3 separate regions of the Homo sapiens genome follow, and all the other regions are reported to be linked to region 1. Evidence: microRNA targets listed by miRTarBase, many of them from high-throughput screens and not tested one by one. Region 1 holds a microRNA gene; each other region holds the end of a gene's coding sequence.

What was found. Region 1 holds the annotated microRNA hsa-miR-6883-5p (AGGGAGGGUGUGGUAUGGAUGU, at 1,992-2,013, opposite strand). A microRNA usually pairs through its seed, bases 2 to 8, with sites in the 3' UTR of a target mRNA and lowers its output. Matches are read on the target gene's strand: a 7mer-m8 pairs with bases 2 to 8, a 7mer-A1 pairs with bases 2 to 7 and ends in A, and an 8mer does both.
Region 2: the mRNA of CCDC120 is a reported target of hsa-miR-6883-5p. Seed matches in the 3' UTR shown: 7mer-m8 at 1,226-1,232 and 7mer-A1 at 1,360-1,366.
Region 3: the mRNA of PPFIA3 is a reported target of hsa-miR-6883-5p. Seed matches in the 3' UTR shown: 7mer-m8 at 1,225-1,231, 7mer-m8 at 1,257-1,263 and 7mer-m8 at 1,424-1,430.

Annotation. Positions count from the first base shown.
Region 1 is chr17:8,143,054-8,147,117 of GRCh38, forward strand. It overlaps MIR6883 (microRNA 6883), which reads right to left and starts at 2,018; the gene lies at 1,941-2,018. PER1 (period circadian regulator 1) reads right to left here. Exons shown (of 23, transcript NM_002616.3): 14 at 3,844-3,949; 15 at 3,541-3,712; 16 at 3,319-3,449; 17 at 2,905-3,084; 18 at 1,698-1,940; 19 at 213-823.
Region 2 is chrX:49,068,260-49,072,323 of GRCh38, forward strand. It overlaps CCDC120 (coiled-coil domain containing 120), which reads left to right. Exons shown (of 11, transcript NM_001163321.4): 11 at 285-1,595. The coding sequence ends at 399. It overlaps PRAF2 (PRA1 domain family member 2), which reads right to left. Exons shown (of 3, transcript NM_007213.3): 3 at 2,902-3,749. The coding sequence ends at 3,610. Among named protein-coding and RNA genes, the nearest start is that of PRAF2, 3.7 kb to the right of the region's middle.
Region 3 is chr19:49,149,335-49,153,398 of GRCh38, forward strand. PPFIA3 (PPFI scaffold protein A3) reads left to right here. Exons shown (of 30, transcript NM_003660.4): 28 at 213-384; 29 at 746-817; 30 at 902-1,692. The coding sequence ends at 804. It overlaps HRC (histidine rich calcium binding protein), which reads right to left. Exons shown (of 6, transcript NM_002152.3): 2 at 3,927-3,997; 3 at 2,976-3,044; 4 at 2,670-2,724; 5 at 2,183-2,219; 6 at 1,864-1,998. The coding sequence ends at 1,962. Among named protein-coding and RNA genes, the nearest start is that of HRC, 4.0 kb to the right of the region's middle. RefSeq lists enhancers at 189-408, 1,998-2,607.

The DNA.
Region 1 (4,064 bases):
TTGAGATGTCCTCACCACCTGTCAGACAGACAGGACTGTCCCTTCAAAGAGGAGGTAGCCAATTTCTGCCTCATTCAGAAATTCAGCTGGGGACTCCCTCCACCTCCTGGAGGCTGAGACGCCAGCCTGGCAGAGACAGCAGGCAGCACAGGGTGGCAGAGGGGCGGGGCTGGGGTGGGGGCTGGCAGGCAGACGCAGGGGTCAGTGCTCACCAGTCTGGCCTCTGGCTCAGCAGCCTCCGCACTGGGAGGTGGGGGCCCGGCACTGCTCCCAGGGCCTCCTGCAACAGCAGCCCCCTCAGCACGGGGGAGCTCCTCCAGCTGCAGCAGATTGAGCTGGAGTGGAGAGCTGCATCTCGAGTTGAACAGTGGAGAGTCCGGGCGGTGAGGAGGACTCGGGGCGAGGGCGGGCAAGGATGGAGAAGGGGAGTGCGAGGCAGGAGTGGGAGGCCCTTCAGCAGGGGTCTGGAGTGCCCCATAAGGATAGCTGGATGGGGTTGGGAACAGATAGTTAGGGAGCACCAAGGCCACCATTGGGGTCACCAAAGGGGCGGGGAAAGCAGCTGGGGGCACAGATGTGGGAGCAGGGGGAAGAGGCTGGGGGCCTCCTCGAGGAGAGAACACTGGGAGAGGGTAGGGCTGGACAACCGCTGGGAAGGGGGTAGTGGCTGGTGGGGTGGGCCAGGGGGTGGAGGGTGGCACGGGTGAGGGGTGTGAGACATAGCAGGGCGCTTCAGCCCGAGGGTTCTGGTGGTGGCGTGAGCGCTTGGCTTTGGATCGGCAGTGGTGTCGGCGGCTTGGGGGTGCGGGGCCGTGGTGGCAGCCTGTGGGGAGAGACTAGGGTTAGCAAGGACCTCAACCTGGGGTTAGTACCCCTGCTACCCACACTGCCCTGACACGCTGACCAGGGAGAGGACAGGCCAAGGTCCCAGAGAGAGCTTCTCAACCCACACAGAACGGGGGACTCAGGAGGTGGGGCACCTTCAGGGAAGAATCACAGGAGCCAGGGACAAGGGGATTTATTGAGAAAGGAACAAGGCCAGGGAGAGGTTACACGAGGGGTCGAGCTGGGGGTGTGCGGAAGATGGAGGCATGCTGGCAGATGGAGGAAGCAGGGTGAGTCCATGGACACATGGACAGATGGCTCTGGTCCGCCAAACTCCTGTGGGCACTGCCAGCCTAGGCATTCCTCCTGCCCATCGAGGCCGTATTCTGCCTAGCTTGCAATGGAGTGAAGAGTGGGGCTGGAAAGCCCAGTCCTGAGTCCTGCGTCTGCCTGCAGGGGATCTCCCTCAGGCACCTGGAGGGGCTGCCTTCCACCTGCCCTTGAAGCCCAGACCCCACCCAGAGTTGGCCCAGAATCTATGCATGTCTCTTCATCAGTGACAACTGACTCCTAAGTGGGCATACTTCCTGCCCCTGCCCCCAGGCTAGGCCTGAAGTCGCTTACCTGGAGACAGCACCTCTGCCTGCCCATCCCAGTGCCATCCCCCCAGGCTGCCCTCCTCTGGCTGCAGCCCGGAACCCCATCCTAGTGGGGAGAAGCTAGCGAGGGGCCTGTCCCTAGGCAGGGCCTAGTGGTGGAAGCAACACCAGCCTGGGTCCCTGGAGCAGAAACACCTCCCTTAAGACCCACCCCCCAACAATCCAGTCCTAGACTGGGCAGAGGGCAGGCTCCAGGAGGCCCCAGGTGGCTACCTCGCTCGCCAAGGGCTGAGGGAGCTGTGGAAGAGCTGTCGAGTCCACGCAGCCTGCCCAGGTCTCGGAAGCGGCTGAGGAAGGCTTGCTCTTCCTTCTGTGTGTGCAGGGACAGCACGGCCTTGGTCAGCCCCACTGGACGGTAGGCGTCTGGGGCTGGGTCAGGGGCTACTGTGGGGCTGGGGGCTGGGCTGGGGGCTGGGCCTGGGGCTAGGCCAGGCAGGTCCTCCATCATGATGATGTCTGAGGAGAGTGAGATAGGGAAAGGTCATCAGAACCACTTCAGGGGTCAACACATCCATACCACACCCTCCCTGTCTGATAGCCTAGCCAACCCCTGGCAGCTCTGCCCCACAGCCAAGCCTGGTCTCCATGTACGTTTCTTGGTCACCTCTCTGCCAACGGCTGGCCCTGGGTCCTCCTCTCCATGCAAAGCTGGCCCAGAAGAAGAGACGATACTCAGGCCCCTCCAGTGGCCACTCCCTGCCAGGAACTCTACTGGGATGACCCCGTCACAACTCTCATTGGAAGAGAAGCCCACCCCTTGGCCTTCCCTCACACATTTTCTTGTTTCTTTTTTTTTTTTTTTTTGACATGGAGTCTCACTCTTTCTCCCAAGCTGGAGTGCAGTGGTGCGATCTCAGCTCACTGCAACCACCACCCCCTGGGTTCAAGCGATTCTCCTGTCCCAGCCTCCCGAGTAGCTGGGACTACAGGCGCGCGCCACCACGCCCGGCTAATTTTTGCATTTTTAGTAGATACAGGGTTTCACCATGTTGCCCAGGCTGATCTCGAGCTCCTGATCTCAGGTGATCCTCCTACCTCAGCCTCCCAAAATGCTGGGATTACAGGCCTGAGCCACCATGCCCAGCCCCTCATGATTTTCAAGGTCAATATCCAAAGACCCTTCAGGGATGTTCAATTTTCCTTGCCTTCAGACCCTGTGTGGTCAGCACCTCAGGGCAAACCCTCTATCCCAGACTCTGTGTTTCAACTGACAGTAACAATACGAGAAGCAGAACAGGGGAAGGGCAAAGCCGAGAAGCCTGGCAGGGAGGGGAGAGCAAGAAGCAGTAGCCCCAAGCCCCAGGTCAAGGGAGGCCTCCTTCTCTCCATCAGGCCCTAGAGGGGAGGGGAAAGGCAGGAGGGAGCTCTAGCTGGGAGACCGGTGGAGCCCAAGCACTGCCCCCCAATTCCACACCCATACCCGACTCCGGGGGCTTCTTGTCTCCCACATGGACGATGGTGGAGCTGAAGCTACACTGACTGGTGACGGACACCACACTCTCCGCCTTATTGGCCAGGGCGAGCGGGCTCAGGGTGCCTCCCACCACTGGCTCCTTCCGTGGGGTGGCCCCCTCCCCAGACAGCGCTGCTGACGGCGGATCTGTGCAGAGAGATGGTGCCAGTTACCATCCCCACCCCCACTGGGAAGTCAGGAGAGAGGATCCCAGGGAAAAGGGGAAGGGGATGGTGGTAGGGAACAGAGGGAACAGTCTGGAGACCAGGAGGCTGGGGAGGAGAGCAGGGCAGAGCAAGAGGGCCCAGAAGCAGAAGGGAAAAGACACAGGGCCACCAGGCCAGGACGGGGCAGTGGGAGCAGGGTGCATTGGATCTTTACCTTTCTTGGTCCCCACAGAGACTGGACCTGTCCTCTGCCTGTCGTCGTCAGAGGCTGAGGAGGTGGTATAGGAGGAGGAGGAGGCACATTTACGCTTAGTGGTGCTGGGGAGGTTGCAGCTCTCCAGGTACCTGGGGATGGACACAGCACAGGGCATCAGAGCAGGGCTTGGGGTGGGCAGGGTTAGAGCCCGAGGTGGAGAAGATGCCTGGCAGGCCTTACCTGAGGATGCTGTCCAGGCAGTTGATCTGCTGGTAGGAGCAGCTGGAGGCTTCTTTCCTCTCGGCCTCCTCAGGGACCAAGGCTAGTGGGGCCTGGACGGGAGCAGAACCCGCCTCCAGCTCTGGGTCTGGGGATTGGCAGGGAAGGGCCTTGGCCTTGAACGTGCCTGTAGCTGGGGCAAAGAGAGAAAGAGGAAAATAGCCTTCTCAAGCTCACATGGAAAAAAACAGCAAATGGGTTGGGGGTGAAGGTCAGGGGACCCCCCAGGTCTGTCTCTTCACCCACACATCATCATCAACTCACCAGGGAGGCGGGGCCGGGACTGAGGCCGGGCCCGAGACTCAATAAAAAGCTGCTGGCCCTGGTGCTTCACCAGATGCACATCCTTACAGATCTGCTGGAAAGTCACCTGTGGGACACAGCACCACAGTGAGCAGAACCAGGGGGTGTCGCCAGTGTCAGGGGCCAAGGGCACAATAAAACAAGAAGGTACCAGTGGGGAGGCACAGACGCCTTGATGGGAG
Region 2 (4,064 bases), not on the chromosome of region 1:
GGTCCTGGTGGAGGGGATCTTGGGCACTGGTAGCAGCAATTCTTTATCAAGTTATAGGCTGAAGATGAGCCTTGAAGCCAGGGTGCCGGGAGGAAGGGACATCTCATGCCCCTTGCTGTTTTCTTCCTTTTTTCTCCATGCCCCAGAGCCTGAAAGTGCTGTCCTGTGCCTGCCTCCACCTCTTTAACGAGCCTCTTTTCCTTTCTTTTTCTGTGTCTTGTCTGTCTTTTCTTCTTCTTGTCTTCCCCGCCCTGTCCTCCGGATTCCTGCTACCCCTTCTAAAGATACTACGCGGACTTCCTGTATCCCCCGGAGCTGAGCGCTCGTTTAAGTGACCTGACGCTAGAGGGGGAGCAGTCCTCCAGTTCTGACACCCAGACCCCGGGGACACTGGTCTGACCCCTTCTGATATGTCCCTTGTTGGCCTGGGCACGATTCCAATCTGGGGAGCACACAGCTGACCTCGCTGGGCCCTGGGGTGTGGTTGCTCTCAGTCCTGAGCAGAGTGCGCCAACCTAATCTTCCAAGGCCCCTGGCTCCCCGTAGGCCCAGGAAGGTGTCTGACACCCTGCTTCTTCTCTCACACTGTGCTGGGGACTGGGGGCCCTCAGCTAGCTTAAAAGAGGGGGGATGATGTCATGGGGACCCCAAGCCCCTTCCTCCATTTATGTTTACAGTTGTGACTTAGGTATTCACTGTCTTCCTCCAACACTAGGCGTTTTACAAAAGGGAAACTGTGATCTCATCTGGTTGGGTTCATTCCTGTTCCCATGCCCAACCAGGTTCCATTCAGGAACCCCCTCCATAAAATGGACCATATCGGGTCTCAGGGCCATTTAGGGCAGCCAGGAGACTCCGGTGTGAACAGAAATCCCTGCCACGCATCGCCAGGGCAGTTGGGGCAGTGGGCTCTCTGCCCACACTTGGAAGGACTGCAGTCTGGGTGGGATGCCTGAAAGAGCCCAACCCCCTCTGTGCCCATGGCCTCTGCCCTGACCACCCCCAGTCAGGAGGCCCCACAGGAGGGGCACCCGGTAGATGCCAGTGAAATCCTCAGGTGAGGTCTGCCTACGGGCCACGGGCCACTCACCACTCACACCTTCCTTGGCTTTCCTTCCACCCTTTTTTTTTTCTCGAGACGGAGTCTTGCTCTGTCACCAGGCTGGAGTGCAGCGGCGCAATCTCAGCTCACTGCAACCTCTGCCTCCTGGGTTCTCCTGCCTCACCCTCCCGAGTAGCTGGGATTACAGGCACACGCCACCATGCCCGGCTAATTTTTGTATTCTTAGTAGAGACAAGGTTTCACCATATTGGCCAGGCTGGTCTTGAACTCTTGACCTCGTGATCTGCCCGCCTTGGCCTCCCAAAGTGCTGGGATTACAGCCGTGAGCCACTGCACCCAGCCCCAATCCACCACTTTTTAAGCAAACCCACACAAGTTGTGTTTTCTATGATACCTGTCTGTGATTTTCGGAGCTGGGGGTTCCCCTACCCCCTTTTCCTGGCGTTAAGCTTTTCTTTTTATACCAGTGGATCTGGACCCAAGACATTACCCACACTGGAAGGGGATTTGTATAATAAATGTGTAAACTGAACCCATGTGTTGCTGCTCTGTCTGCCTCACCTTGAGGACCCACACCTCTAGTCAAGACCAGATAATATATTTTTGCAGGAAAAAACATACCTTGGGAATAGCCTGTGATAGTGTCATCTGTTTTGACTTTACTTGCTTTGTGATGTGGGGCAACTTCTTTGCCTGTCTGCACTCAAATTTCTAGCCAACCTCAAACAATAACTCTTGGTAATATAAATGGTGATAACAAAGACTCTGTCCTTAACCTCCCTATACATTTTTTAAAAATTTTTATTTTTTTGAGACAATGTCTCACTCTGTTGCCCAGGCTGAAATGTAGTGGCGCGATAACGGCTCACTGCAGCCTTGACCTCCTGGACTCACAATCTTCCCACCTCAGCCGCCTGAATAGCTGAAACTACAGTTGTGCACCACCATACCCGCTAATTAAAAAAGAAAAAAAAATTGTAGGCCGGGTACGCAGTGGCTCACGCCTGTAATCCTAGCACTTTGGGAGGCCAAGGTGGGCAGCTCACGAGGTCAGGAGATCAAGACCATCCTGGCTAACAGTAAAGCCCCGTCTCTACTAAAAATACAAAAAAAATTAGCCGGGCGTAGTGGCACGTGCCTGTAATCCCAGCTACTCGGGAGGTTGAGGCAGGAGAATCGCTTGAACCCGGGAGGCAGAGATTGCAGTGAGCCGAGATCATGCCACTGCACTCCAGCCAGGGCGACAGAGCAAGACTGTCTCAAAAAAAAAAAAAAAAGTAGAGATGGGGGTCTCATTATGTTGCCCAGGTTAGTCTCGGACTCCTAGGCTTGAGCAGTCCTCCTGCCTCAGCCTCCCAAAGTGCTGGGATTGCAGGCGTGAGCTACCATGCCCAGCTTTTTGAGACAGGTTCTCACTGTTGCCCAGGTTGGAGTGCAGTGGCACAATCACAGCTCACTGCAGCCTCTACCTCTTAGGCTCTGGCCATCCTGCCACAGCCTCCCAAGTAGCTGGGACTACAGAAGCACACCACCATGCCCAGCTAAATTTTAATTTTTTTGTAGCAATAAGAGTCTTGCTATATTGCCCAGGTTGGTCTCAAACTCCTAGCCTCAAGTGATCCTCTAGTCTCAGCCTCCCAAAGTGTTGGAATTACAGGCGTGAGCCACTGCACCTGTCCTTCCCTGTGCTTTAATGCTGATCCAGAGGTCATAAGTTCAAGGAAGGGCCTCAGAGATCACCTCTTCAGCCCACATATTCAGGAAGAGTCTAGCAGAATTGAAAAGTAGGCCACTTCTGTCCTTTGAAATGTACAAGGACTTTACCCAGGAGGCTCAAATTGGCATGAGAGATGCAACAGGCTTTATTGTTGCAGCAACACTAACATATACGCCCCATTCCCTGCTGAGGCCTGTCCCCACCTCACCCCTTGGTTGTCGATGGTGTGGAACATTGGGGTGAGGGGCAAAATGCCTAAGCAGAGCTGGAGGGAGGCAAATGGGACTGGTGAGGGTCGGGATCACCTGGACCAGGGGTCCAACAGTCAGGATACCCGACTCCATCCACACAGGGGCATGGAACACTTGGGTTCTGAGTTCAAGATTTGGCAATGTCTTGACCTGGGTTGGAAGGTAGGGTGGGGTCTGGAAAAGCTTTGGTCCAGGGTTCAAGATTTGAGAGTGCCTTGCCCCAGGCCCCAGTTTGGGGATGAGCATGGAGAAGGGTGGATGGGAGTGTCTCTGGGTTCACAATTTGAAATTGGCCATGGATGCTCTGGCCTGAAGCCAGTTTTGGGGCTGGATGTAGGTGGCTCTTGGTCCTGGGTTCAAGGCTGGGGAAGACTCTTGTCCCTAGGTAATGGGGGCTGGGTGTGAGGGATATCTTAGTTTGGGGCTGGCGTGGGGGTAGGGCGGTCACAGATGTCCTGTTTTGTTTGGGCAGGGGGCTCTAGGCTCCTGTTTTAAGTGCTGGGAAAGGGCTCTGGGTCCCAATTATGGGCTGGGGGTGGGGTGGTATTCTCCAGGTCCTGGGTACAGATCCCAGGGGCCTAGGATCCAGCCTCCTGCTCTTGTCCCAGTGCCTCTAGTAGCAGGCCCATTGGCGTCCGCTTGAGACCAATGCTCTCGATCTTGTTCTCAATCTTGTTCTTAAGGTTGCGCAGGCGCAACGAGGCGTGCACCAGGATCACTGTGGGCGGCACCGAGAGGGGTGGTCAGTGGAATAGACCTCAGCCTGCAGCCAACCGGGGCCCACCGAAGGGAATTGGCGCGCAGGCAGGCCAATGGAGTGGTGAGCAGCCAGGACGCCTCAGATACTGAAAGCGTGGCCGAGTAATTGGCTTGGCAACGTGGGCATGGCCAGGGAAGACGCCCGGTAACGGGGACGTGGCCAGTGGAAGGCACTTAACACCAAGAGTGAGATAGGAAAGGCGATAATAAAAGGGGTGTTCCCAGAAGGGGGAACGAAGCCCGGGAAGGCGCTTTTAGCGGGGGCGTGGCGAGG
Region 3 (4,064 bases), not on the chromosome of region 1:
GCAACAGCTCAGAGGGCTCTGCTCCCAGCGGCTCCTCGAGAGGCTGAGCTGAGGGGGCGGGGCCTGACTATTAATGGTCACGGTTGGAGGCGGGGCCAGGAGAGGGGCGGGGTTAAAGGAGAGGTGAGACCCGGAGAGGGGTGGAGTCAAAGGAAGGGGCGGAGTCAGACAAGGCAGGAGTCCCTCACCGGCTGTCCGGCTCCTATACCTAGGACAGCGCCAAGTCTTTCAGCCGCTCCCCATCCTGGCGGAAGATGTTCCGGGAGAAGGACCTCCGAGGCGTAACTCCCGACTCAGCTGAGATGTTGCCCCCCAACTTTCGTTCGGCTGCAGCGGGAGCCCTGGGCTCTCCGGGGCTCCCTCTCCGCAAGCTGCAGCCAGAAGGTGGGGGGCTCCCAAATGCGACAGCCCTTCCTCGCTTCCCTAGGGTGGGGCATGGACCACCTCAGTAGTCCGGGTTCTGGAATGGCCTAGTCCTTTCTCGCCCACCCCTGAGGAATGGACTGCTCCAACGTTCCGGACTCCCCCGTCAGGATGAAATGGATAAATCCCACTCCCCCTTCCCAGGGCGGGAGTGAACTCGCCCAATGCGAGTTTGAGTCCTTGGCTGCGGGGAAGGGAGGGAAACCCATGTGGAGCCCGGCGATCGTTGTGACATCGGGAAGGGAAGTCCAAAGGGAGGAATCCTGGAGAGGAACAGGGAGGAGGGTGCTCCAGGCTGAACCGCTGCTCGCTCTCCCTCCAGGCCAGACTTCTGGGAGTTCCCGGGCAGACGGCGTTTCGGTCCGGACCTATTCCTGCTAGTGCAGGCCTCCAGGTGAGGACCGTGCTGGGCGACCTTGGGGGTGCGGGGCGGCACGGTGGATCTTCACTGCTCCACGCGCTGCCCGGCGTCATGCAGGTGACCTCACTCGGACGGAAGAATCTTCCCGAGGCTGGGCTGTTCCCTCTCCTGCCCGGACTGTGGCCTCGCCGGGGAGAGCGGGCGGGGGAGCTCGCGCCGAGGACTGGACCATCTGTACAGACCAGCGGGAGTGCGCGCGCCCGCCTCGCACAGGGCCGGGGCCTGGACCAAACCACATGAACTGGACTGAGAGGGGGAAGAAGCGGGGAGGAAGAAATCCCGCCCCAAACGTCCGCTTTCCTTTTCTCTACTTTGTAATTTATTGATCAGTTTCTGTTGGGAGACGGGTGTCCTTTACCCGCGGGAAGGGGGCGGGGCTTCCCTCCCGGGCCGCATGCGGGGAGAGGCTGCTCCCTCCCCTTTTTCCTGCCCAGTCGCGGGGCCCAAGTCTTCCTTCTTCGTCCGAAAGGAGGGGAGGGGGGACTCGCTGCTACAAGCCTCGCCCCCTGTGCCACTCAGCTCCGCCCCGCCGCGTCCGGTCGCCGGTCCCCCGGGTCATCTGCGGGCGGGTTCCCCTCTCCCTCCCCCGTGTCTCGTGTCCCCGGGGCCTCACCGCCCCCCGTGCTGTGGCCGTGTCCGTGCCCCGGGGGTAGGGGGCGCAGAATGGCGCTTCCCCTTCTCCTCTGGCTCCGGGGTTTGCATGGGAGAATCCTCTTTCCACGATGCCGCTGGGCGACGTGGCGTGGGGGCAGGGGGACGGTGGGGGAGCCCTCGCCCCCGACTCTCGGTCGGCCTCCCCGCCCCAGGCGTCACTCAGTGATCACGGGTAAAGAGAACTGTTTCAAAAAGCTTCCTTGTTGACTGATTTTTTTTTTGCGGGGGGGGGGGGGGCTGTTCAACCAACCACCTCGAGCCAGGAGTCCAGGCCCCTCATCCCTCAAGTCTAGGTCCAGGTCTCTAGACCCTACCCGCATTCCCCGATGCCCTGAGATTCCCAGACCCCACGTCTGACAATGAGGTTTCGGGGAGCACGTTTATTCGGAGAAATAAATATAGCTCGTGGAAAGGGGTTGGAAGGCAGGGGGAGGTACACCTGCGTCGCAGTCGAGCGACTGGGTCAGGGTTCCGGCGTTTCCAGCATGTCTGCCAGGGCCCTGGAGACGAGAACGCCAGAAGTTAGACAGCTGGTGTTCAAAGCCCACCCCAGGACGCTTAGAGATCATTAACCTGCCCATTTCATGGACGGGGAAATGGAGTCCCAGAGTCATCTGATAACTCATAGCGAGACAAGCACTTCTCTAAACGGGGCTTTTACACGCTCCCCTTTTACACACTTACTGATAAAGGGACGAGGAGAAATAGTCAACGTAGCTTCCTGTGGGACAGCAGAGAAAAGAGGCTTGAGGGGTACTGCACGAGCAAAATTAGGCAGCCACTCAGTATAGCGTGCGAGATTAGTGCTAGCTCCACCTCCTTTTCCCTAATTCCTTCTTCCAACTGAATCCCTTCTACCGGACCCCTTTTTCGTTCTGGGTGATTCCGTTCTCCAGTAGCCCCGCCCCTTCGATTCCTACTTGAGTTGGCCTCGCCCATTAGGCTCTAAGCCCGCATCTCAACCCTCCACTCATTTCTGTCCCTTGGCTCCAGCAACTCCACCTGGTGTTCCTCGAGCCAGGCCCCGGCCCACGTGCTCAGAGCCTTGGCCACGCCTCCCCTCTTAGCCCCGCCCCACCAGCCTACCGGGCCAGGCTCCGCCCCCACCAGGATTCACCACGCTGGGCCCGGCACCTTCCTCAGGTTTTTCCAGGGCCCCGCCCATGCTCACCTGGAGCGCAGACCGTTTCGCAGACCAGCGGGCAGAGATAGCAGAACTGACAGTGCTGGAGGCGGGGACGGGGAGAGAGAGTGAGCGTGGGGCGTGGCCGGGGGCGGAGTTAGGATGGGGCCGGGACCAGACCCGGACCAGAGGCTAGGTCTAGGTTAAGGTTGGAGTCAGGATCGCTTGTGGAGTCAAGGTTGCATCAGGGGTAAGGGGTTGGGTCAGAGGCCAGGATTTAGGGCTGGGGGTCCTCAGAGGGTCCCGGTGCATCCTGAGGCCCAGTGGAGCCTTGAGTGTGAGGTGAGGTCTCACCTGGCACTGGTCGCAGTGCTCACCCATGTTCTCCTCATCACAGTGACAGCTCTCACATTCAGTGCATCGCTGGGGACCGGGGGAGCCTGGTTAGATGGAAACTCTAACGCCACTTGGGAGGTACCCGCCCCTGGCCCACCCCTGCACCCTGGACGCTTCCCCAGACTCTACCCTCTTTATCTCTAACACTGAGCTCTGTATCTGCCCCCCAAACCAGCCTCCCCTCCCCTCCCCTGCCCCTGGTTTCCTTCCTTTCCCTTTTTTTCCTTTTTTTTCTTGAGGCGGAGTCTCTCTCTGTCGCCCAGGCTGGAGTGCAGTGGCGCAACCTCAGCTCACTGCAACCTCCGTCTCCCGGGTTCAAGCGATTCTCCTGCCTCGGCCTCCTGAGTAGCTGGGATTACAGGTGCGTGCCACCACGCCCGGCTAATTTTTTTGTATTTTTTAGTAGAAATGGGGTTTCACCGTGTTAGCCAGGATGGTCTCGATCTCCTGACCTCGTGTTCCGCCCACCCTGGCCTCTTAAAGTGCTGAGATTACAGGCGTGAGCCACCACACCCGGCCCTGCCCCTGGTTTTCTATCTCAGGGCGACCCCATGTCTCCCTGTCAGGGTGGGCTCAGGTGCTCTCTCCACCCGCTCTCTGCCTATTCTCCCCCTAGCCTATCAGCCCCTGTGCCATCCCTCCTTCCCCCGACTCTCTTTGCCACAGACCCCTGTCTCTGTCCCCACACCCCAAGATGCAGCTTGGGTCTTGTCCTCTCCTTCCTGGACCACTGCCCCAGCCTCCCAGCCTTCAGTCTGTCCTCACCTCACATGCCTGCAGAAGGATCTCTTTTCTTTCAGAACTGACCCTGGCCTGCCCTTGCTCTGAGCCCTCCCACAGCACCACCCCAGGGCCCCTGGGACAGATTCTGGGGACACCTTGGTGGGTGGATCTGGGCTGGGGACATACATTGCAGAAGGAGCAGTAGCCACACAGGGACCCTGGCTGGTAGTTCCCATACTCCTGAGCATCCTGTGGACCTGCGGGGACAGGAGGGCAGCAGTGACCCAGGCTGACTCGGTTCCTTCCCACCCACACCAGCCCAGG